Linked DNA regions of Homo sapiens. The protein of the gene in region 1 interacts with the protein of each later gene in a pairwise test. Each region holds a gene or a part of one and is shown in the gene's direction. Other genes may lie near its edges.

Region 1 (3,500 bases):
ACCCATCTCTCTGAATCTGAGAGCCTTCCAGAACACTGTCTTTCAGGCCCTTCATCCCAGGTCCAAGTGGACACAACCGAAAAGCAGGAGGAAGAAGCAGGAGAGGTTGAAAAGGGAGTAGATGCCAGTGACAGCACTGCTCACACAGCCCAACCTGGACACCAACTAGGCAAGAAGAAGAAGAAGAAAGGAGTTAGCTGTAATTGTACCTGTCCTCTCCCCTGTCCTGTTCTCACTACTATTCACTGTCCTTGACTTGCCCCAGGAGGAGGAGACTGGGTTACTCTTGGACATGGCCCCTTCTCTTAGTTTTAGGGCCTTCTCACTTCCCCCTGGTTACTCATCCTCTCCCATCCTAGGTAACACAGCCCGCCCAGTGTTCCCTGCTAGGCAGACAGAGCTGGTGGAAGTGGCTAAGGCAATGCATAGAGAGGAGTTTGGTGCTCAAGTGAACAATCTTTTCCAGTGGGAGAAGGATGCAGCCCTGAATGCCATCCAGACAGGTGAGCCCATGTGGCCTTTCAGAGGCCTGTGACAGGCCCATGGGCATCCTCTAATCCAAAAGATCTGGGAACCTGAACATTCAGCAGATAGCTTCCCCTTTTGGAAATGGCTATACCACCTGCCTGGAAAAGGAGCAGGCAAGTGGGCCAAGGAATACAAGGGTGGATGCAGACAAAAAGTGGGGAGATTCATATAAAGCCCAGGTAGAGACAGGTAGCTGAACTAAAATTATTAAACACAGAAGGGTCGGCTGGGCGCGGTGGCTCACGCCTGTAATCCCAGCACTTTGGGAGGCCGAGATGGGCGGATCACGAGGTCAGGAGATCGAGACTGTCCTGGGTAACACGATGAAACCCCGTCTCTACTGAAAATACAAAAAATTAGCCGGGCGTGGTGGCAGGTGCCTGTAGTCCCAGCTACTCGGGAGGCTGAGGCAGGAGAATGGCGTGAACCCGGGAGGTGGAGCTTGCAGTGAGCCGAGATTGCGCCACTGCACTCCAGCCTGGGCAACAGAGCGAGACTCCGTCTCAAAAAAAAAAAAAAACCAAAAAACAAAAAACAAAAAAAAACAGAAGGGTCATGGCCCACCCCAGATATAGGGCCCAGAGAGCCTACAGACCCTAAAGCAGAGATGGCCCAGGACCCTGGACAGTCCCCAGGAGACTTGCTGTTCTGACATGACAAAGACCTTAGTCCCTTTGGTGGAACTCCATTAAAAGGCTGTCACCCCTGCATGCCAGGCCCATGCTGGGTACCCAAAAGCTTTGAGTTCTGTTACCAAAGGGGAGACCTGTGTCCTCTGGCCCTGCTGTTTCCAAGCCTCAGCCTGTGATTAGTACTCTTGACAGTCCTGTTAGTGGCATGCTGCGTACAGATGAACTTGCAAAAACATGCCATCCTATGCATGAGCATGCCTACCTGTGTTATGGAAATTCATGTCTATAGGGATTACCTTCAGTAAGAGGGCCACCCTGACCTGCTATAAGGATTCTGGTCTTTCTAGACTGAATTCAATAGATGTTATGACATTTATTTTGGTCCTTCATACTTCCTTTCCCTTTATGATGGGAATAGAGCTACGATGACAGGCCTAAAACATAAAGACAAGCAGGTAATTCTAAATGCTTATCCCTCCTCCATGAAATTTACTTTCCCCTTTCCCATGCAGGGACCCTCCACCTCCCCACCCTTGCCCTCCCGCCCCACCACCAACTTTGTTTGCTTATGTTAACATATTCGGTTACTCTTATTTTCTTGCAAATTCTGGCTGGCAAGGTGGCTCACATCTGTAATCCCAAAACTTTGGGAGGCTGAGGCAGGAGGATCACTTAATTGCCCAGGAGTTAGACAGTGAGGACAAGACAGTGAGACCCTATCTCTACAAAAATAAAATAAAATAATCCAGACATAGTGGTGCACACCTGTGGCCCCAGCTACTTAGTAGGCTGAGGTGGGCAGATTACTTGAGCCCAGGAGGTCAAGGCTGCAGTGAGCCGTGATTGTGCCAGTGTATTCCAGCCTGGGTGACAGAATGTCTCAAAAAAAAAAATGCAGGATGTGTTCAGTCCTCTTATTCCCCTACTCAGAACCTCCTGTCTACTCCCTACTCCTCAAGCCCACTGTATTTCTTTTTCTTCTTCAAATTGAACTTCTTCATCTTCCTGTTTAAACAGGAAGTTTTATAAAGAAATTCATGTCATTCAACCCCGAACAATTATATTTGAGGTCCCCTCCTAATAGTGGGGATGTTGAGTCCTGGGTAGTCCATAACAGTATATGTGATGTGTACAGAAATATCAAGTGTAACCTTTGTTTTTATTCATTCGACAAACATTTATTGAGCACCAACTATGTGCCAGGCATTGAGCTAGCTATGGAAGTGGTAATGCTGATGGGGGTTCAAAGACAAAATACTTGGCACTCTAATGAGAGATACCAATAAGTACAAGGACAATTATAATTCACTCTAATAATTGCTATAATCAAGGTTATCCTAGACTGCTGCATGAGCAGAAAAAAAAGGGGCATCTTATCTGGAGTGCTTGAGGAATAGTAAGCCTTGGAAGGAATGACTTCTCAGCTGATATCTGTAAGATGAGTAAGAAGAGGTGGCCAAGTAAAGAGTGCTGTAAGATGAGACATGACAGGGCAAGGCACAGCAGGAATCTATAGCAATGCACTATGCCTGATGCATAGAGTGGTGGGGAGAAGAGCCCACTCTGCTCTAGAAGGGCAGAATTGTGCAGGAATTTCTGTGCCAAGTTAAAAGCTAGAATTATATCCTGAGGGCAACTGAGAGTCACTAGAAGGTTTTAAGTAGGACAATAACATGAACGAATTTCTGTTTCTGCAAGATCACTCTGGCAATAGGGTAGACTGGAGAAAGACAAGACTGGAGTTGTGAGGCTAAGAGAGGAGGTATGGAAAGGCAAGTGAATACATTGTGAGGCACTGGTCATAACCAGGAAAGAAGTAGATGGGCTTAGGTGGAGAGAAGTGGACAGGTTCAAGAAATGCTAACAGGCCGAGCGCAGCGGCTACCACCTGTAATCCCAGCACTTTGGGAGGCCAAGGGGTGGATCACCTGAGGCTAGGAGCTCGAGACCAGCCTGGACAACATGGTGAAACCCCGTCTCTATTAAAAATACAAAAAATTAGCCGGGTGTGGTGGCGGACACCTGTAATCCCAGCTACTTGGGAGGCTGAGGCAGGAGAATTGCTTGAACCCAGGAGGTGGAGGTTGCAGTGAGCCGAGGTTGCACCACTGCACTCCAGCCTAGGCAACAGAGCGAGACTCTGTCAAAAAAGAAAGAAAAGAAACAAGAAAAGTAGGGAAAAGAAAAGAAAAGCTAACAAAGTGAAACTGACCATTGGAACAGTGGATGTATAGGATAAGAGAGAGGGAAATGCCTGGAGTGCCACCAGTTTTTGGCATAAGTAAGTGGTAGGATAATGGTGCCATTAACTGAATGCCTAGAAAAGGGTAGATGCTTGGT
Region 2 (2,719 bases), on another chromosome or scaffold:
CACTCAACACCAGCCCATGAAAGCAGCCAGGAGGGAGGCTGTACCCTGCAAAGCCACAGGGGTGGAGCTGTCCGAGACCATGGGAACCCACCTCTTGCATCATTATGACCTGGATGTGAGACCTGGAGTCAAACGAGATCATTTTGGAGCTTTAAAATTTGACTCCCCTGCTGGATTTTGGACTTGCATGGGCCCTGTAAAATCCCTTTGTTTTGGCCAATTTCTGCCATTTGGAATGGCTGTATTTACCCAATACCTGTACCCCTATTTTATCTAGGAAGAAACTAGCTTGTTTTTGATTTTACAGGCTCATAGGTGGAAGAGACTTGTCTTGTCTCAGATGAAACTTTGGACTGTGGACTTTTGGGTTAATGCTGAAATGAGTTAAGACTTTGGGGGACTGTTGGGAAGGCATGACTGGTTTTGAAATGTGAAGACATAAGATTTGGAAGGGCCAGGGACAGAATGATATGGTTTGGCTGTGTCCTTACCCAAATCTCGACTTGAATTTCATCTCCCAGCATTCCTACATGTTGTGGGAGGAACCCAGGGGGAGATAATTGAATCATGGGGGCCGGTCTTTTCCTGTGCTATTCTAGTGGTAGTGAATAAGTCTCACAAGATCTGATGGGTTTATCAGGGGCTTCTGCTTTTGCTTCTTCCTCATTTTCTCTTGCTGTCACCATGTAAGAAGTGCCTGTCAGCTCCCACCAAGATTCTGCGGCCTCCCCAGCCATGTGGAACTGTAAGTCCAATTAAAGCCCTTTTTCCTCTCAGTCTTGGGTATGTCTCTATCAGCAGTGTGAAAATGGACTAATACAGGGGCATCGCACCATAGTTTGCAGATGGAACAGGTAGGGGTGGCAGGGTGGGGAGCCAGGGGGCATTCCTAGCCGAGACACCCATTGTTCAATGGAGCAGAACTCTGGGACAGGTGGAGAACATCTGCTGGTAAAAAAACACCCCACCCCTGGTACCAAATACCCCAATAGCAAAGACATACAGGCAAAGACAGGAGGAAAGTGGGGCTGGGTTTTCCAGACTTGCCAACTCACGATCTGTTCAACTCCCAGCTCCACCAGCAGACACGCAGCATCACTGTGTGTGGTTGCAGGGCACAGACACCTGCAAGTGGTCAGCATCACCCAACCACATGCAGCAGTCCTGGGACCACAGTAACATCCCACAGCAAGTAAACTAATTAGGGTTGCCTGGAGGCAAAGTCTCAGCCACAACAAGGAAAGGGAAGGCTTGTGAGACTCCTGTGAGGAAAATACCCAGGGAGGGTATAAAACCTCAGCAGCCAGGGCACACAAACCCACACACCTCACACCAGCACTCACACCACCCAGTCCAGCACCCACCATGGCTGACGCCTGCTGCACCAGGACGTATGTGATTGCTGCATCCACCATGTCTGTCTGCTCCAGTGACGTGGGCCATGTCAGCCGAGTCTCCTCCCCCAGCACCTGCACTGGCTCCTCCTGGCAGGTGGACAATTGCCAGGAAAGCTGCTGCGAGCCCCGCTCCTGTGCCTCCAGCTGCTGTACCCCTAGCTGCTGTGCCCCAGCCCCCTGCCTGGCCCTGGTCTGTGCCCCAGTGAGCTGTGAGCCCAGCCCCTGCCAATCAGGCTGCACCGACTCCTGCACACCTTCATGCTGCCAGCAGTCTAGCTGCCAGCCGGCTTGCTGCACCTCCTCCCCCTGCCAACAGGCCTGCTGTGTGCCTGTGTGCTGCAAGTCCAACTGCTGCAAGCCCGTGTGCTGCGTGTCCATCTGCTCTGGAGCTTCCTCCCCATGCTGCCAGCAGTCTAGCTGCCAGTCAGCTTGCTGCACCTTCTCCCCATGCCAACAGGCCTGCTGTGTGCCCATCTGCTGCAAGCCCATCTGCTGTGTGCCTGTCTGCTCTGGGGCTTCCTCTCTGTGCTGCCAGAAGTCTAGCTGCCAGCCGGCTTGCTGCACCACCTCCTGCTGCAGACCCTCCTCCTCCGTGTCCCTCCTCTGCCGCCCTGTGTGCCGGCCTGCCTGCTGTGTGCCTGTCCCCTCCTGTTGTGTCCCTGCCTCCTCCTGCCAGCCCAGCTGCTGCCACCCGGCCTCCTGCCTGTCCTTCCTCTGCCGCCCCGCGTGCTCCCGCCTGGCCTGCTGAGGCCTCTGCTCAGGCCAGGAGTCCAGCTGCTGATGGGCACGTCCCCCAGGGCCAGCCGGCTCCGGTCCTGTCCTGGGTTAAGTGGCTGCCCCTACCTGGGATGGGGTCTCCATGTCTCCCCTGTGCTGAGGTGACCTCTCCCTCCTTACTCCCAGGAGCCTCCATCCTCACTGCTCCCCAGCTCTTGCCTTCCAGCAGGTGCCCACCTGCCTGCTGGGTCCCCTGTCCTCCCTCCCAGCTTCTCTGCTCTGGGTCACTTGGCCTCGACTTGAACCTCTCAGCACCTCCTCCTACTCCCCAATAAACTCTCCTTGGTCACCTGATTCTCTTTTCCTGTTGTTCTCCTGGGAGGACACACGGTTTTGAGCTGACATTGGTCTCCTCCAGCCATGACCGTTTCTAGGAGTGAGTTACTTAACCTAGAAGTCACAAGGGACAGTGGCCTAACTCCTCCAGGGGGTCACCAGGTGGGACTCACGGTCACTCCCAGGAAGGCTCAGTCCCGGCTCAGCCCCTGTGACCGGGTCTTCCTGAGCCTGGTCATTCGCTGTAGTGCCCTGGGCTGTGGGGCTCT
Region 3 (4,297 bases), on another chromosome or scaffold:
AAATCACTTAATTAATTAATTAATTCATAGACATCTAGAAGCCCTGCACTGTGCTTAACACTACAGAGATTTAAAAAAAAAGTACAAGGTCAATCCTTGCCCCCATGCTTACAGTCTCCCTGGGAAAATAGGGCTGAAACACAAGACAATCAGAAGACGTCAGTTAATTGGAGGCCAAGAAATCTACCAATAGTCACTGCCTTGGGCATTCAGAGCTGGGAGGGCACAGCAGGGCTGGAGCAGGGGCCAGACTTCGGGGGAAGGCCTGGCCAGGACTGGGCCCTTAGAGGCAGTGGGGTGGGCCTGTGGTTTGGAGCTGCAAGGCCTGGGCTTTAGCCTCCCTGGGAAGCCTGTGTGGACCTTGGGTAAGCCATTTTCTACTCTGACCATTGTCTCCTTCTGTAGGAGTCAGCACCTTTCTATCCACGACTGTGTTGGAGGGTGTGTGTGAGGCCTTAAAGAAGATAGCATGCCTTGAACAGTTGTACAGATGCTTTTTCAGCTGTGATCTGGGACAGGCTCCTGAAACAGTCCAAGCCTCCTCTATTTAATGGGCTATTGGTGATGCCAATCTCATGAGTTTGTGTGAGGACTGAATAAGAGAATGCATAGAGACAGATCAGCGTGGGGGCTGGTGGGTACTAAATGCTCAGTGAATGATGGTTGCTACCATCAGCCGGGTTATTGATAGGGCTGTGTGAAAAGAGCTCCAATTCAGGCAGCCAGAAGGAAGGGCTTCTCCATTTCTCAACCAGGGCTGGGGAAGACATGCCCTCCTAGATGTCATCATGGGCAGGTGTCCAATTAACTGATCTCTAGGCATTGTGGCTAGAACTTAGGCTCTACAACCTGCACAGACTTCCTGGCAAGGGAAAGAGTAGGGAAGTGTCCATCAGGGCTCTGCAGTATCTAGGGTGATAAGCTGTCCCATTTTACCGAGGACTGAGGTTTCCCTGGCATATGGAACTTTCGGAACTAAAGCCAGAAAATTCCTGGGGAAACCAAGAAAATTGGTCACCTTAGCCATATTTTCTGGGCCAATTCAAGAGCCTTCTGTGTCTCCCTGGCTGCAAGACCCCTGCCTTCCTGCACCAACCAAGTTTACCCTTCCATCTTCTGGGAGCACCCCAGAGACCTCCTCTACTCCCTCAGGCCAATAAAAGAAGTCAAAGTTGGAGAAAGTCAAGACAGTGGCTGAACTCCCATGCTTGCTTAATGCGGAGGCTGAGGTCTGGGCTCAAATGACAGGTCCCTTTGAAGAACTGACAGGGACTTGGTCTTCCCAGTGATGTGGGGTGGTGGAGATGAGTCTTGACATAGTAATGGGGCTCCTATTTTATGAGACTGGTAAATTTTCACAGGAAACTAAATAACAGGTTAATGAGGGGTTTTAATAGAAAGTGGTGTTAACTTTAATGAGGAGAAAACACTTTGTAAAGGCCAACCAATGCCCACTGGGGCAGAGATATAAATCTGGGGTAAGGAGCTGCTTCTCTGCTTTGGGGTGTCTGGCCTCAGAGACCTATCAATTGCATCTGAGTTGCAGGGGCCATGGCTTCCAAATGCCTCAAGGCCGGCTTCTCTTCTGGGTCTCTCAAGAGCCCAGGAGGGGCCAGTGGGGGCTCCACTCGTGTGTCCGCAATGTACTCCAGCAGCTCTTGCAAGCTTCCAAGTCTCTCCCCTGTGGCCAGAAGTTTCTCTGCCTGCTCAGTGGGTCTGGGCAGAAGCAGCTACAGGGCCACCAGCTGCCTCCCTGCTCTCTGCCTCCCTGCTGGAGGCTTCGCTACCAGCTACAGTGGGGGTGGGGGCTGGTTTGGGGAGGGCATCCTCACTGGCAATGAGAAGGAGACCATGCAATCCCTGAACGACCGCCTGGCCGGCTACCTGGAGAAGGTGCGTCAGCTGGAGCAGGAGAACGCCAGCCTGGAGAGCCGCATCCGTGAGTGGTGTGAGCAGCAGGTCCCCTACATGTGCCCTGACTACCAGTCCTACTTCCGGACCATCGAGGAGCTCCAGAAGAAGGTAAGAGGTTCAGAGTGGCTTTGGATTCCCAGGAACTTTGTGTCACCAGCATTCATTGGTAGTTCTGTTCCCATAGGGCATGTTGGAAGTCACCAAGCATGTTCATCTCTGTGGCCTCATTTGCTCCTCCCAATAACCTTAAGAGGGAGGTATCATTAGCCCATTATACAGTTGAGAACACTGAGATTCAGGCTGGGTAAGCGACCCAGATGGCAGTTACTGGAGCCAGAGCTTGAACATCAGGTCTATGAATGAACTCTGTGACCTTTGGTGGTATTGCCCAATCCTCTGAGTCTTCTGAGTTTTCATTTCCTCTTTTATTTAAAGTCAGGGGATTGGGTTTGATGTATTTAGTGCAGTGCAGTTCAGGCTTCCCATAAGTAACTCAGGGAAGAAAATGCCTGTCAGAGAAGTTTCTTTCTTGCCAAGGGCCCATATCCACTTCTCGCCTGGCCCAAAGTTATAGCTGGCTCCTGTGAGGGACCATTTATGACCAGAGAATCCCGGGGTATGTTGTTGGCAATGAAATGCCCTGGGCCCCCAGTAGGCCTGGGAGACAGGGAGATTGGAAGAAGCCTCATTTCATCATGCCAGGCCTTTCCTGTTGCATTTTCATGCAGCTATCTAACCTGAGTAACAGGTCACAGATACACTGCACTGGAAGAAACCCTGGACTTTCCATAGTTGATCCCTAGAGCCTGCCCATAACACTCCAATGCACATGGAGTAGCAGAGGTCTAGGATGGGTGACTTCCTCCTTCCAGAGTCAGCCCTTGTCAGCTTTAGGGAGCTCCAACAAGTGGAATGTCCTTTCTTGCAATGAAATAACTTCTTCATATCTCCAGACTCTATGCAGCAAGGCTGAGAATGCCAGGCTGGTGGTGGAGATTGACAATGCCAAATTGGCTGCAGATGACTTCAGGACCAAGTGAGTTGTCCTGCTTGTCATGTGGTTGGGGGCTGCTAGAACTGGACACAGGTGATGCCTGAGCTCAGGGTTTTGGCTGTACTCTGTCATTGGGGCATAAAAGCAGGACTCACAGCACCTGGACAGTCTGAGGGCAGGCCTGACTTAGATGCAAAAAGGAAATGCAGACTCAGGTGCCCTGTTCTATGCCTGCAGGTATGAGACGGAGGTGTCCCTGCGGCAGCTGGTGGAGTCAGACATCAACGGCCTGCGCAGGATCCTGGATGACCTGACCCTGTGCAAGTCTGACCTGGAGGCCCAGGTGGAGTCCCTGAAGGAGGAGCTGCTCTGCCTGAAGAAGAACCATGAGGAGGTGAGCATGGGGGAAAAGGTGAACACGGCACAGCAGGTGAGCATGGGGGAGGAGGTGAACATGGGGAGGAGGTGAGCATTGGGGATGAGGTGAGCATAGGGGGAGGTGAACATGAGGGAGCAGGTGTGCATAGGGAAGAGGAGGTGAGCATGGGGAGCAGGTGAGCATAGAGAGCAGGTGAGCATGCAGAGGAGGTGAGCATGGGGAGGAGGTGGGCATGGGGAGCAGATGAGCATGGGGAGGAGGTGAGCATTAGGAGGGGTGAGCATGGGGAGGAGGTGAACATGAGGAGGAGGTGAACCTTGGAGGCAGCCCTCTGGGAATTAGTACTCATCCTGGTCTGTGCTATAGGAAGTGAACTCACTGCGCTGCCAACTTGGTGACCGCCTCAATGTTGAGGTGGACGCTGCCCCACCTGTTGACCTGAACCGAGTTCTGGAGGAGATGAGGTGCCAGTATGAAACCCTGGTGGAGAATAACCGCCGGGATGCTGAAGACTGGTTGGACACCCAGGTAGGTACCTGGAAACAGTCAGTGCAACAGGGGTATGTGGTGGCTCACATGGAAGTGACCCTGGGGCTCTGAATCAAGAAATCTAACTTTGAGTCCCATCTCTGTTTTGACCTTGCTGACAAGGTCAAAACAGACCCACTTCAATTGACCTTGCTGACAAGGTCAAAACAGACCCACTTGGGCAGGTTGCTGTCCTCTGAGCAACAATGCCCTCCAGTATAAAATAAATGAGTGGGACTGGGGAATCGGGAATGTCTTTCTTGGCTCATGATTCTAACCGGCCTCTGTAGCTCTCTGAAGCCAAGTCCCTGGTGTGGCTGACCAGGTTCTGTGTGTGTATGTTTCAGAGTGAGGAGCTGAACCAGCAGGTGGTGTCCAGCTCAGAGCAGTTGCAGTCCTGCCAGGCAGAGATCATCGAGCTGAGACGCACGGTCAACGCCCTGGAGATTGAGCTGCAGGCTCAGCACAGCATGGTGAGCCCC
Region 4 (2,763 bases), on another chromosome or scaffold:
GTTCCAGCTGCAGCAGGAGAAGCGGCAATTGCAGGACGACTTCGCACAGCTGCTGCAGGAGCGCGAACAGCTGGAGCGGCGCTGCGCCACCTTGGAGCGGGAGCAGCGGGAGCTCGGGCCGAGGCTTGAGGAGACCAAGTGGGAGGTGGGCCAGACCAGGAGGGGCAGGGAGCAGGGTCACACAGGGAGAAACCCTGGAAAAAGGGGCCCAGCCCCACCCTCCCTCAGCCTGCCACCCCCAGAGGTCCTCCCCTTTCTCACCTCCGTGAGATGAGGTTCCCCTCTGTCCCTTTCTGGGAGGGGGGTCTCCTTGTTGGCCTTGTCTAGTGGCACGTAGCCACGCTTCCAGCCAGTAGTAAGAATGTGGTGCTTGTGGTGTGGAGGCACTATTCTAAGCATGTTACATGGAACAGATCATTTCATCCTTATAACAACACTGAGGGGGCTACCATTAGTCTCCCCATTTTAGAGATGAGTAAACTGAGGCCCATAAAGGCTGAAGCCCCAAATCTGAACCCAGGCAGTCTGGCTCCAATATCTGAGCTCTTAACTAGGTCACTGTAGTACCTCTCCAGCAGGCACCTGGGCACTGCCCTCCATTGTCCCCACTCCTGCAGCACTTGCCAGGACCCAGTCCCCAGTCCCCAGTCCCCAGGGCTTGGTGGTACTTGCAGTGTCTTGTGATGCTTTGAAGACACCAGCTTTGAAGCAAAAAGTTCTAGGTCTGCTTTCCACTTAAGCCCCATCTTAACTGTATGACCTTGGACATGTCACTAGACTTGCTTTAGTGTCTCCATCTGTAAAATGGGGATAAAGATGGACTCTTCTCTCCCAAATGCCCAGCATGATGTGCAGGGCCTGTCCCCCCAGGAGAACCTGTCTCACCATCCTTCCCCACTTCCTCCCACCCCCAGGTGTGCCAGAAATCAGGCGAGATCTCCCTGCTGAAGCAGCAGCTGAAAGAGTCTCAGGCAGAGCTGGTGCAGAAGGGCAGCGAGCTGGTGGCTCTGCGGGTGGCGCTGCGGGAGGCCCGTGCTACGCTGCGGGTCAGTGAGGGCCGTGCGCGGGGTCTACAGGAGGCCGCCCGAGCTCGGGAGCTGGAGCTGGAAGCCTGTTCCCAGGAGCTGCAGCGACACCGCCAGGAAGCTGAGCAGCTGCGGGAGAAAGCTGGGCAGTTGGATGCTGAGGCGGCCGGACTCCGGGAGCCCCCTGTGCCACCTGCCACCGCTGACCCATTCCTCCTGGCAGAGAGTGATGAGGCCAAAGTGCAGCGGGCAGCAGCCGGGGTTGGGGGCAGCTTGCGGGCCCAGGTGGAGCGATTGCGGGTGGAGCTGCAGCGGGAGCGGCGGCGGGGTGAGGAGCAGCGGGACAGCTTTGAGGGGGAGCGGCTGGCCTGGCAGGCAGAGAAGGAGCAGGTGATCCGCTACCAGAAGCAGCTGCAGCACAACTACATCCAGATGTACCGGCGCAACCGGCAGCTAGAGCAGGAGCTGCAGCAGCTCAGCCTGGAGCTGGAGGCCCGGGAGCTCGCTGACCTGGGCCTGGCCGAGCAGGCCCCCTGCATCTGCCTGGAGGAGATCACTGCTACTGAGATCTAGGGCCCTCAGCAACCAGCTCTGTAGGGAGCTCTGCCAGAGGGGCAGCAGCTGCAGATCCACTTAGGCCCCAGGGTCCACGGATGGCCCCAAAGGCTGAGGGCCCCAAAGCCACTTGTCTCCTAGGATCCAGGCCTCTGGGCTTCTGCCAAGAACTCAGGGTGGCCCTATGACTTGGAGGAGCAAGATCAGACCGCTCAAAGGTCCCCGTGTTCACTGTTACCCAGAGGCTCTTGTTACTACCCACTTCATTCCCCACCGCTGCCAGTGCCACTGCCAACCCTGTTCACAGGCGCTTCCAGCCCACTCCAGCCAGGGGAGCAGGGAAGAAGAAGGGGCTCCCTCCTCTTCACATTCCCCCCGACCCCAAAGCCAGAGAAAGCCAGATGGCACCAGCTGCTCCGGATGTGCCTGCCCACATTGGGGGACAGGGCCGGGCCTGGGCTCGGTTCCCAGGTTTGAGCTCTGCAGCCTCTCTCCTGGAGTGAGGGGGCTGAAGTCAGACCAAAGGAAGAACTCAGAAATGTCTTGTTTATTTGTGTTTGTGACCAAGCAGCCTCTCCCTTCACCCAGGTTTATGGCCTCGTTTTCACTTGTATATTTTTCACACTGTAAATTTCTTGTACAAACCCAAAGAAAAAATTAAAAAAAATTTTTTTGTTTAAAAATAATGTGAATGTGCTGGATAAAGAGTACAGGAACTTGTTTGACCCCCCCCCCCCCACCATTTGCTGGCTATTCTCCTCCCCCTCATAGAGCTCTCTTGGGGAGAAAAGGTGATGGAGGAAGGACAAATCCAGTAGAATGTCTGAGGTCTTAGTGGACCCCAACGTGAAATGATCTCTCAGGATTTCAGGGACTAGAAAAGCCTTTCATCCGTTTCCTTGCACAGAATGCTGCTTGGGGTTGAGGAATGGATGCATTGACCCCTTCAGGGCCCTGTCTGAGAGTCTGTGTCCCTGGAGGCTTGGGCGACTCATAAGGGACAGCATGTGAGAAAGTGCCCACCAATCCCAAGCTCCAGACCTTGGCTTTCTCACCCCCTATCCTGGCTTGGGAGGTTGGGGAGCAGTGAGTGCAGGTGACACAGGCTGCCCACTAGCACCTTGTCCTTGGACACTAAGGCAGAGCCTTAATGACAGCTGAGGAGGGAAGAAAGTGGAAAGAT
Region 5 (3,500 bases), on another chromosome or scaffold:
AGGCCCTTGTGATTTCTCTGGGGAAAAGGAGGACTGGAGTTGATCATTTATTGAGGCCATCAGAAGCGGATGGCTAATTACATATGGGACATGTGTTAATAATGCTTTGTGTATATAGAGTGGCCTTTACTTTCAAAACACTCTTCTCCAATTTATCATGTTAAAAGCTAGGAATTGGGCTGGGTGCAGTGGCTCACGCCTATAATCCCAGCACTTTGGGAGGCCAAGGCGGGTGGATCATTTGAGGTCAGGAGTTTGAGACCAGTCTGACCAACATGGTTAAACTCCGTCTCTACTAAAAATACAAAATTAGCCAGGCGTGGTGGCACACACCTGTAGTCCCAACAACTACTTGTGAGGCTGAGGCAGGAAAATCATTTGAACCCAGGATCAGAGGTTGTGGTGAACTGAGATTGCACCATTGCACTCCAGCCTGGGCAACAAGAGCAAAACTCTATCTCAAAAAAAATAAAAAATAGCCAGGCACGGTGGCTCATGCCTGTAATCCTAGCACTTTGGGAGGCAGAGGTGGGCAGATCACCTGAGGTTAGGAGTTCGAGACTAGCCTGGCCAACATGGTGAAACCCCATCTCTACTACAAATACAAAAATTAGCTAGGCATGGTGGCAGCCACCTGTAATCCCAGCTACTTGGGAGGCTGAGGCAGGAGAATCGCTTGAACCCGGGAGGTGGAGGTTGCAGTGAGCCAAGATCGGGTCACAGCACTCCAGCCTAGGCAACAGAGCGAGACTCCATCTCAAAAAAACATAAATAAATAAAAATAAAAATAAATAATAAATAAAAGCTAAGAATCAAAGAAGCAGTTTATTCCTAATTTCACAGTCTCATCTGTTCATAGTGGGGCCAGGATTAGAGTCAGTGGCCAAGCTTCCATCCTGGGTTCTTTCCCTTCCCAGGCCCTACCATCATAGTATACCAGGGAAAGACCTGGAGAAGCCAGCAGGTTGACCACCGAACCAAGGCTGGGCCACCTTCCTCCTGGGTCTGGTCTCCAGCCTCCCAGTTGTACCCTTCCCCCAGCCCTTCCTGGATGCACTGATCAGCCTGTGCTTCCTTGCCCTGTTTTTCTTTATAAATAGAGCCATGTTCTCCTCTCTCTCTCTCTCTTTTTTTTTTTTTTTTTTTTGAGATGGAGTCTTACTCTGTCACCCAGGCTGGAGTGCAATGGCACGATCTCAGCTCACTGCAACCTCTGTCTCCCAGGTTCAAGCAATTCTCCTGCCTCAGCCTCCCGAGTAGCTGGGATTACAGGTGCCCACCACCATGCCCAGCTACTTTTTGGATTTTTAGTAGAGACAGGGTTTCACCATGTTGGTCAGGCTGGTCTTGAACTCCTGACCTTAGGTGTTCTGCCCGCCTCAGCCTCCCAAAGTGCTGGGATTACAGGCGTGAGCCACCACGCCTGGCAAGACGTGTTCTCTCTATGTTGTTGAGGCTGGTCTTGAACTCCTGGCTGCAAGAGATCTTCCTGCCTCAGCCTCCCAATGTGCTGGGATTATAGGCATGAGCCACCACACTTAGCCCAGCCTGTGCTTTCTTAAATGAAAATCTAAGCATACGGCTGGGTGTGGTGGCTCACGCCTGTAATCCCAGCATTTTGGGAGGCCAAGGTGGGCAGATCACGAGGTCAGGAGATCGAGACTATCCTGGCCAACATGGTGAAACCCTGTCTCTACTAAAGATACAAAAATTAGCTGGGTGTGGTGGCCCATGTCTGTAGTCCCAGCTACTCGGGAGACTGAGGCAGGAGAATGGCATGAACCTGGGAGGCAGAGCTTGCAGTGAGCTGAGATCGCGCCACTGCTCTCCAGCCTAGGTGACAGAGCGAGACTCCATCTCAAAAAAAAAATAAAAATAAAAAAAAGAAAATCTAAGCGTGGTGCTCCCCTGCTCAAACATCCTCAGGTTCTTTTCATGGCAGATAAGGGCATCTCTTCATGAGCCAGCCCCTGCCTACTGACCCAGCCACCTCTCCCATCCCTTCCCACCCCGTACTTCAGGCTTCAGCAGTACTGATCTTTCCAAAGACCCCAGAACACACATGCCTTCATACCTCTGTGCCTGTACATGCTTGTTTCTGCCCTTGAAATCATGACAGTAGCTCTCTGTAGGCCCCGCTAGCCTGTCCCTTGGGTCTTAGCCTCTTGGAGGCCTTCCCAGAGCCCCCCAAAAGTACCCCAGGCATACTTTGGTTCCTTCTCTCATGTCCCCTCAGTACTTTGCACATACCTCCTTTATAGCAGTTGCTATGTTGTGCCAGAGAAGGGAGTCCTGTGGCTGGGGGGCATATATCTTTTCTTTTTGAGACAGAGTCTAGCTGTGTCACCCAGGCTGGAGTGCAGTAGTGCGATCTCGGCTCACTGCAACCTCCACCTCCTGGATTCAAGCGATTCTTGTGCCTCAGCCTCCTGAGTAGCTGGGACTACAGGCGTGTGCCACCATCATGCCTGGCTACTTTTTTGTATTAGATATATATTTTCTCTCTTAGCACAGTACCTACCAAGAGTGAGTGAGTAGATGTCCTGACCCCTGCAGGCATCCAAGGCCCTCCTTCCCTGGACCTGTTTCCACATGTGTGAAGGGGTGCACAGGCAGCAGCCCACCTCTCAGCTTCCTTCCAGTTCTTGTGTTCTGTGACCCCTTTTCCTCATCTCTGCCTGCTTCCTCACAGCTTGAGGCAGCCCTAGGTGAGGCCAAGAAGCAACTTCAGGATGAGATGCTGCGGCGGGTGGATGCTGAGAACAGGCTGCAGACCATGAAGGAGGAACTGGACTTCCAGAAGAACATCTACAGTGAGGTGGGGACTGTGCTTTGCAAGCCAGAGGGCTGGGGCTGGGTGATGACAGACTTGGGCTGGGCTAGGGGGGACCAGCTGTGTGCAGAGCTCGCCTTCCTGAGTCCCTTGCCCTAGTGGACAGGGAGTTGGGGGTGGCCAGCACTCAGCTCCCAGGTTAAAGTGGGGCTGGTAGTGGCTCATGGAGTAGGGCTGGGCAGGGAGCCCCGCCCCTGGGTCTTGGCCTCCCAGGAACTAATTCTGATTTTGGTTTCTGTGTCCTTCCTCCAACCCTTCCAGGAGCTGCGTGAGACCAAGCGCCGTCATGAGACCCGACTGGTGGAGATTGACAATGGGAAGCAGCGTGAGTTTGAGAGCCGGCTGGCGGATGCGCTGCAGGAACTGCGGGCCCAGCATGAGGACCAGGTGGAGCAGTATAAGAAGGAGCTGGAGAAGACTTATTCTGCCAAGGTGCTTGCTCTCGATTGGTTCCCTCACTGCCTCTGCCCTTGGCAGCCCTACCCTTACCCACGCTGGGCTATGCCTTCTGGGGATCAGGCAGATGGTGGCAGGGAGCTCAGGGTGGCCCAGGACCTGGGGCTGTAGCAGTGATGCCCAACTCAGGCCTGTGCCTCCACCCCTCCCAGTCACCACAGTCCTAACCCTTTGTCCTCCCCTCCAGCTGGACAATGCCAGGCAGTCTGCT
Region 6 (3,500 bases), on another chromosome or scaffold:
TATTTAATCCACCATTGATGGACACCTAGGTTGATTCCATGTCTTTGCTATTGTGAATAGTGCTTGAACTTATTTTTAAAACTACTTTTTCTGTGAGTGTTGGGAGGCTCTAAACAATAGATGCCATTTGAAGACAAGATTAGGGTAGATCACATTGAAATTTTATTTGAGAGTTAATAGTTGAAAATATTAATTTTGTAAAATAGAAGAGGGGGCTAATTCAGTAATATTTTCATGTATTAAAAATTAATTTGGTGTTATTATTATATATTAAAAAACTAGAATCAAACTGTTTTTATGTCTTCCCCTTTTTAACAATTCCAATTTAGCATTGTTTTACAAAATACTGCTTTTCCCACTGTTTATGAATATAGTATAAATGTTGCAGTAATTTATGACACTACCATTTACTTCCCCTTGAATTCTAGAACTTAATCGTGAATTGTTGTTGTTGTTGCAAAATGGTTGTAACAAATATTTAATAGTAAATCTGTGTAAAATGCTTTAGCAAAGTGCCGACTCAAAAAAGCTCTGGATACATGTAAATTATTTTCTTTTTTTGAGACAGAGTTTTACTCTTGCTGCCTAGGCTGGAGTGCAATGGCATGATCTCGGCTCACTGCAACCTCTGCCTCCCAGGTTGAAGTGATTCTCCTGGCTCAGCCTCTCGAGTAGCTGAGATTACAGGTTCCCACCACCACGCCCGGCTAATTTTTGTATTTTAGTGGAGACGGGTTTCACTATGTTGGTCAGGATGGTCTTGAACTCCTGACCTCAGTTGATCCACCCGCCTCAGCCTCCCACAGGGCTGGGATTACAGGCGTGAGCCACTGTGCCTGGCGGTTAATTCTTTTCTAATACACATAGAGTCATCAAAGTATAGGAAGCAAAAGTCTTGAGAGAATTTCACTGCATTGCCTATAAACGGGCAGGACTGAACCTTAGTCACATTTTTGGTTATTTCTGAATTAATAAAACTTACTACCAAGAATTATTATATTCAGTGGTATGCTGATAAAAGGTTTAACAATCAGCTTTCAAGAGGGGACACAAGTCAATGATTTATAGCATTTACATACCTCTACCATGGCTGCTTTTACTCAACATGCCATCATTGCATATAGCATTGGGAAGAAATGAGCAGCAGTGTGGCATTATATAGTATTTCCACCGTACAGATATGACAGACATAAACTACCTCAAGAACCTAGGTAATTGTAAAAATATAGTAAAATAATTAGGAACTGATGAGTTTTGTGTATTTATTATTTTATTTTTAATGCAATTTATTTCATTGTAGAGTTATATATTCTAGCTTTTAACAATGGCTTCCAAAATTCTTGAAAATTTAATATCTGGCTCTTGGGAGCCAGTATAAGCAGACTCTAGCAGACCTCCCCTCCAAAAGTATAAATTAGAGATTCCTAGTCCATGATCTGTGAATGAGTTCCTTGGGAAGTGCATAAAGCCTAAAAGATTTCTGAGGAGAAGTATTGGTTGAGTACCTAATGTTTGTCTGCCACTGTAGTTTAAGGATTTGGCAAACAGACAAAGACCAGCTCATGCAGGGCCTAGTAGGTCATAGTAAGAATTTTAGTCTTGAAAGCATTGAAAAGACATTGAAACTAGGGAGTGGTCCAGTAAAGTTGCTATTTTTTTTTAAGAAAAATTATTACTCTACCTGCAGAGTAGTGCAATTACTATTAGTAATTCACTACTACTAGTAATATCTGAGGGGATCATCAGCAGTGCATGGAAGAGATGTGCAAGTGATAATGGTGATTGGAAAAGAGTGGAGGTAATGAAAATACAACCTTTCACCAAATACCAGCTGAGCATTTATTATGTGTCATGTGCTACTATGGGTTTCATTTGAATTATTTTTAATTCTTTTCCTCCTGTTTTCTTATAGGGGATTCTTAAAATAATTAAGGTGTGTAGTTCTAGTCTTTTTATTAGATTAATTGCAAAGATCACTAATATATCCACTTTTGTTTTATTTGACAACTAACATATATTAAAAGCATACTGTGAATATGATGAAAGACAGGCCCAGGAACGAAAGACTGAAGAGACCTTATAACTGTCCTGGAATGGATCCTATACTGGAAGGATTTTTAAAATGCTCTAAAAGGTGTTATTAGTATAGTAGGCAAAAGTGGAACGTGGTCTATGGAACATGGTCTATAGATTAAAGTTCTGTGTTGGTTTTAAATTTCCTGAATGAGATCACCATACTGTGATTACATAAGAGAATAGTATTGCACTTAGGAAATATACTCAAGTGTGTATTAAAGAGCAGTAGAACATAATATATGTAACTCCTTTGAAATAGTTCATAATAAAGTAAATTAAATGTTTATACATGGATATATGTGGAGAGAATGTTAAAAATTAATGTGATAAATCTGGATAAAGGGAAAACAGGAATTTTCTGTGTTATTCTTGTTACTTTTCTACAAATTTGAAATACTTTCAAAATAAAAAATTTAAAAACCAAGGGTATATTGCTTCATGCATTGCATGAAGCTCTTAACATGAATGCACATTCGGTCATTCCACTCTAAGCTCTGGGATATTTTAGTACTGCAATTTCTGTTTTACAGATGAGTAAACTAAGGCTTCAAAAGTTAGGTAACTCACTTAAATGCATATTTTGAAAAAGTGGCCAAGTGTATTTGTTTTACTGCTGTGACCATTAAATCCTTACACAAAATATAAATACGTCTTTTAAGAAGTTTAGGAAAATGACTTTATTTTGTTTTGTTTTGTTTTTGAGACAAAGTCTCACTGTGTTGCCCAGGTTGGAGTGCAGTGACGTGATCTCAACTCACTGCAACCTCCACCTCCTGGGCTCAGACGATTCTCCTGCCTCAGCCTCCTGAGTAGCTGGGATTACAGGCATGTACCTCCACACCCAGCTAATTTTTTATATTTTTAGTAGAGATGGGGTTTCACCATGTTGGCCACGCTGGTCTCAAACTCCTGATTTCAAGTGATCCGCCCGCCTCGGCCTCCCAAAGTGCTGGGATTACAGGTGTGAGCCACTGCCCCCAGCCAAAAATGACTTTAAAAAGTTAAATTTCTATTATTACCAACCCCCTGCCTGTTTCCTGGAAGTAATTCCTGATATATTCCTCCAGAAATTTTGTATGCAATGGGAGTGTATATATGTGTGTATTCTTAAAATGGGAGTATAATAAGCATCCTGTTTATAATGTGCATTTTTTTATTCCATCTTAATCTCTTTATTGAGTGACTTTGTGAAGTAGACCACTTTATTTAAAATACTAAAAATTATTCATTAAAAAGTAATAGCGTTGTATCACCTCAGTTTGTATTTATGAGCTACATTAGATGCATTTGATATATGTATATTAATTTTTGGTATTTGGCTTTTGTCAGGTGGTTTTGGAATGTATGCTTAAAAAAGACCTCATTTATAATAAGGTCACTCCAACATTTCACCACTGGAAGATTGATGACAAGAAGTTTGGTCT
Region 7 (3,977 bases), on another chromosome or scaffold:
AGGAGCGCAGGAATACGCATTGCCCTGGGGAGGCGGCCAGGTTCTAACCGTCTCACACCTAGTCACTACACTTTACAGATTGGGAAAGCCAAGCCCAGAGGCTGAAGACGCCTATGGAGGTCACACGGCCAGAAATTGACAACGGAGTATGAGCCAGGCCGTCTGTTTCTCTGTGCTATGAGTCCCATACTGTATTTTCAAAGGTCAAGAGGAAAGGGTCTTAAGCTGAAGTGACGGTCCCGCTGCCAGGAGCCGCTTCACTGAGGGTGAAACAATGTAGCCAAGTGCGGGTCACCTGCGCTGTGGCAGAAGGGACCGAGGACGGTGTGGCCAGAGGACTGGCCTGGGCGGAGAGCGAGGAGGGGGAGCCCACAGCTTCTGGGGGGCAGTGACAGTGCGGGGAAGGGCGAGGTGCAGTGTTGGATGTTTTCGCGGGGATTCTGGGACCAGTGGGAAAGCTGGAGGACAGGCGGCTCTGAAGCACCGAGGAGGGGCCTCGGAAGGGGCGGGGAGGTCTCCTTGACACAGGTGAGGAGACGGAGAACTGGGGGCACCCGGCAGCCCAGGCTTCCTGCCGCGCTCTCACGCCCTCCAGGGCCATGAGACCCTGGCTCCGAGGTGGCGGGCAGGTTCGGGACCCGAGCGCGGCGGGATCGTGCGGTTGCCGGTGGTGCTGGGCCCCATGGAGGCTGCGGTCCAGGAGTTTCGGGTGGGCGGCTAGGCCGAGCTTCTGCAGGCGTGCTGAGCCGCCGCAGTAGGGCCCCAGAGGGGACGAGGAATTAGGCCCAGCCGAACGAGGGGGAGCCACCAGAGGCTGGGCCGGGAGGCACCGCCGCGCTCTGGGGAGCTGCCAGGGTCGGGGCGCCCTCCGAGCGGCTGCCAGGCCCCGCGGGCGGCGGCGAGGCGGCCCTCCGCCCCTTCCCCGCAGGTCGCCCTGCCAGCTTGAGCGGCGGGCGCGGGTGGGGCAGGAGGACGCGGGGCGGGGTGGGGGGCACAGGGGGCCCTCTCTGCAGCGCCCCCGGCCCCCGCGCGCGGAGGCAGGGCCGCCGCAGTCGAGGATTAGCGCGTTCGCGGCCGGCGCTGCGGGATTAACCCGCGTGGACTGGACGCCCGGCCCGGGGATTACTGCGCGCTCCCTCCCCGACGTATATATTCCCGCGGCGGCGGCGCCCCGGCCGGGCCGGGCATGGCGGCAGCGGCTGGGGGCGCGGCGAGCCGCCGGGGTGCCGGGCGGCCCTGCCCCTTCTCCATCGAGCACATCCTCTCCAGCCTGCCCGAGCGGAGCCTCCCGGCCCGGGCCGCCTGCCCACCGCAGCCCGCCGGTCGCCAGAGCCCCGCGAAGCCAGAGGAGCCCGGGGCGCCCGAGGCTGCGCCCTGCGCCTGCTGCTGCTGCTGCGGCCCCCGCGCGGCGCCCTGCGGGCCCCCAGAGGCGGCCGCCGGGCTGGGTGAGTGGGCGCGGAGCGGGGCGCGGGGCCCGGCGGAGCCCGGGGCGCGGCGCAGTGGGTGCCGAGCTTGGCCCCAGCCCCGCGCCTCACCGCGCCCTCGCTCCGCAGGCGCTCGTCTGGCGTGGCCGCTGAGGCTGGGACCGGCGGTGCCCTTGTCTCTGGGTGCGCCAGCCGGAGGTTCCGGGGCGCTCCCGGGCGCGGTCGGCCCGGGTTCGCAGCGGCGCACGAGGCGCCACCGCACCATCTTCAGCGAAGAGCAGCTGCAGGCGCTCGAGGCGCTTTTCGTGCAGAACCAGTATCCTGACGTGAGTACGCGCGAGCGCCTGGCCGGCCGCATCCGCCTTCGCGAGGAGCGCGTGGAGGTGAGTGCCCCGCCCAGCCTTTCCCCGGAGCGCGCGGGCCGCGGCTACACTGGACTGGGGTCCTGGCGGGCGGGCGCCCTTTGCAAAGACGGCCTCGGCCCAAGCCCCGCCCTGGCGCGCCGGAGGGAGGAGGTCCCTGGACGGCGCTGGGCGTCCGGGGGTATGAGGAGCGGGTGAGAGCAGGGAGGTGCCGCGGGAAAGGAACCGGAGGGCTACTTTTCTTTTCTTTTGTTTTACACTTTCCTCTGGTGACGAAAGAGGCCCGCGTTCACGTCCAGAATTTGGGAAATTCAGAAGAGCCCGCAACCCAAGAAGGGGCGTCCTGGTCGCCGCCAGCTGGAGGCTGGGGCGGGTACTAAGGGGGTTCCCATCTCGCGTCCAGACCCACCGAGTCTGTCCGCAGCGAATAAGGGCAGGTGGCGCGCAGCCGCGGCCCGGGTGTCGGCTCTACAGCGCCGTCCGCCCACATCCCTGTTGCGAAGCTCCCCTCTCGGTCCCTGTGGGACCCTCGGGAGCCGGTGGGACGCAGGACCTGGGGCTAGGGCTGAGCATTCCCCCCATCCCCAGGTCTGGTTCAAGAACCGCCGGGCCAAATGGCGACACCAGAAGCGCGCGTCGGCTTCCGCGAGGCTCCTGCCCGGCGTCAAGAAGTCCCCGAAGGGGAGCTGCTGATGACTCTAGGAGCTGCCCCTGGGCTCGGCCACCCTTTTTGGGATCTTTGGAGTTGGCGCTGAGAGAAGACAGGTCTACCCGAAAAGGAGCTGGGAGAGTACACCGGCCGCCTCCACCCGTCTCCACAGCCCTTGCCTCCTGCAGCTCGTGCTGCCGTGGCGCTGGGGACGGGCCCCCGGTGCTTGGTGTTCCACGGCAGTGGGAGTGGCGAGTCCCTTGGGGGTGGGCTGGGGCATAGAGCAGTTTCCTCAGCTCCCTACCCCCCGAGAGACACTAACTCCACCGCAGGAGGGGAACCACCCCGTATCAACACGGGACCCAGAATCCTACGCAGTGGAGCGTCTCTCCGCACCCTGGGACATGCTGGCCACCCTCTTCTCAATGTGGACATTGACCTAACTTGACCTGGCTCGTCCTCCCCCAGCGGGAGAGGGGATGGGGTTCGTGTCTGTGCAGTCCTGGCGTTGCAGGCTTCCCAGGCCCTGGGCTGGGTCTTGGTATCTGGACCTGTAGAATAAGAAGGTCGCAGGAGCGATTCCAGGAGCCCCTCCACAGTCCCTTCACCTTCGAGCCTCGCGCTGATACTGAGAAACTAGCAACTTCAAATACCACAGAAGCCGCCCAGAGTCTCAAGTCCACCTTGGCTCCACTCCCACACCCAACAAGGAGCTGTCCCTTCTTCTTCCTTCCCAGCGAGGGGGTATTTAGGGTACAGCTGTCTTTGAGAGGAGCACAGCTCAGCGATCCTCAGTCTCTGCACCAGGGTGCTCCCCAGCAGAGGGGACTGCTCCACGGATGGTGGCCTTGGACCCCTGGGGTCCAGCCCTGGCCTCTAGGCTACTGTGAACCTGCCCATGGGTGAGGGTCCCCTGCTTCCTCCTGGGGTTTTCATGCTGTGGGCTCGGACTCCCTCACAGCAATCTGTGCCATCCTAGGGTAGGGCAAGAGGAGGTTGGACTGGGGAGACCCCGCCCCTGCTGCCTGGGAAGATGCCTGCCCTCCCCTTCTTTATCCTGGCCCATGGCAAAAGGCACAGTGGAAAGAAGCCTTAGATTCCCCAAGTAGGCCCTACAGTGGGTCCAAAGCATCTCACATCCCCACCCCCAGCTGGCTTGAGCACCTCGTTCTGTCTCCTTACAGGCCCTGCAGGGAATGGGGCCATTCTACCTGCAAGAGATGAAGTCCATCTCTAAAAGCAGGACTGCAGAAGCCAGGGCTGCAGCTCCCCAGACACCCCAAGGCTGGCCAGCTTGGATAACACCAAGCAAGCATGGTGTCCCCAGTCAGAACTGCCCTGACACTGCTGGGTGTCCCTAGCATCCCCGCCTCCACCCCTAGCATGCACACAAAGCCCTTCTCCCTGAACCCTGGTCTTGCCCTTGGGGACTGAACAGACTACCTGTGGACATGCCCGTGTCCCAGTCAGCTCCCTTGCAGCTGGGGACACTCGCATCTCACAGGCTCCAGGCCCCTTGAGTTCCTTGGTTGAATGGCCATC

What was found.
Region 2: the proteins of FAM221B (region 1) and KRTAP10-8 interact in binary tests that used the Homo sapiens proteins (3 or more experiments, as listed by UniProt).
Region 3: the proteins of FAM221B (region 1) and KRT35 interact in binary tests that used the Homo sapiens proteins (3 or more experiments, as listed by UniProt).
Region 4: the proteins of FAM221B (region 1) and LZTS2 interact in binary tests that used the Homo sapiens proteins (3 or more experiments, as listed by UniProt).
Region 5: the proteins of FAM221B (region 1) and LMNA interact in binary tests that used the Homo sapiens proteins (3 or more experiments, as listed by UniProt).
Region 6: the proteins of FAM221B (region 1) and SPRED1 interact in binary tests that used the Homo sapiens proteins (3 or more experiments, as listed by UniProt).
Region 7: the proteins of FAM221B (region 1) and GSC2 interact in binary tests that used the Homo sapiens proteins (3 or more experiments, as listed by UniProt).

The regions. Positions count from the first base shown.
Region 1 is NC_000009.12:35,822,233-35,825,732, reverse strand, and holds part of FAM221B (protein FAM221B), read left to right. Parts: coding exon 1-169; coding exon of another isoform or gene 170-199; intron 200-359; coding exon 360-503; intron 504-3,500.
Region 2 is NC_000021.9:44,610,736-44,613,454, forward strand, and holds KRTAP10-8 (keratin-associated protein 10-8), read left to right. Parts: upstream 1-1,343; 5' UTR 1,344-1,365; coding exon 1,366-2,145; 3' UTR 2,146-2,219; downstream 2,220-2,719. UniProt on the Homo sapiens protein: In the hair cortex, hair keratin intermediate filaments are embedded in an interfilamentous matrix, consisting of hair keratin-associated proteins (KRTAP), which are essential for the formation of a rigid and resistant hair shaft through their extensive disulfide bond cross-linking with abundant cysteine residues of hair keratins.
Region 3 is NC_000017.11:41,478,352-41,482,648, reverse strand, and holds the start of KRT35 (keratin, type I cuticular Ha5), read left to right. Parts: upstream 1-1,497; 5' UTR 1,498-1,551; coding exon 1,552-2,022; intron 2,023-2,867; coding exon 2,868-2,950; intron 2,951-3,145; coding exon 3,146-3,302; intron 3,303-3,653; coding exon 3,654-3,815; intron 3,816-4,162; coding exon 4,163-4,288; intron 4,289-4,297.
Region 4 is NC_000010.11:101,005,571-101,008,333, forward strand, and holds the end of LZTS2 (leucine zipper putative tumor suppressor 2), read left to right. Parts: coding exon 1-145; intron 146-914; coding exon 915-1,598; 3' UTR 1,599-2,263; downstream 2,264-2,763. UniProt on the Homo sapiens protein: Negative regulator of katanin-mediated microtubule severing and release from the centrosome. Required for central spindle formation and the completion of cytokinesis.
Region 5 is NC_000001.11:156,131,711-156,135,210, forward strand, and holds part of LMNA (lamin), read left to right. Parts: intron 1-2,692; coding exon 2,693-2,818; intron 2,819-3,094; coding exon 3,095-3,265; intron 3,266-3,476; coding exon 3,477-3,500.
Region 6 is NC_000015.10:38,318,836-38,322,335, forward strand, and holds part of SPRED1 (sprouty-related, EVH1 domain-containing protein 1), read left to right. Parts: intron 1-3,405; coding exon 3,406-3,500. UniProt on the Homo sapiens protein: Tyrosine kinase substrate that inhibits growth-factor-mediated activation of MAP kinase. Negatively regulates hematopoiesis of bone marrow.
Region 7 is NC_000022.11:19,147,493-19,151,469, reverse strand, and holds the start of GSC2 (homeobox protein goosecoid-2), read left to right. Parts: upstream 1-1,177; 5' UTR 1,178-1,186; coding exon 1,187-1,445; intron 1,446-1,553; coding exon 1,554-1,807; intron 1,808-2,374; coding exon 2,375-2,479; 3' UTR 2,480-3,977. UniProt on the Homo sapiens protein: May have a role in development. May regulate its own transcription. May bind the bicoid consensus sequence TAATCC.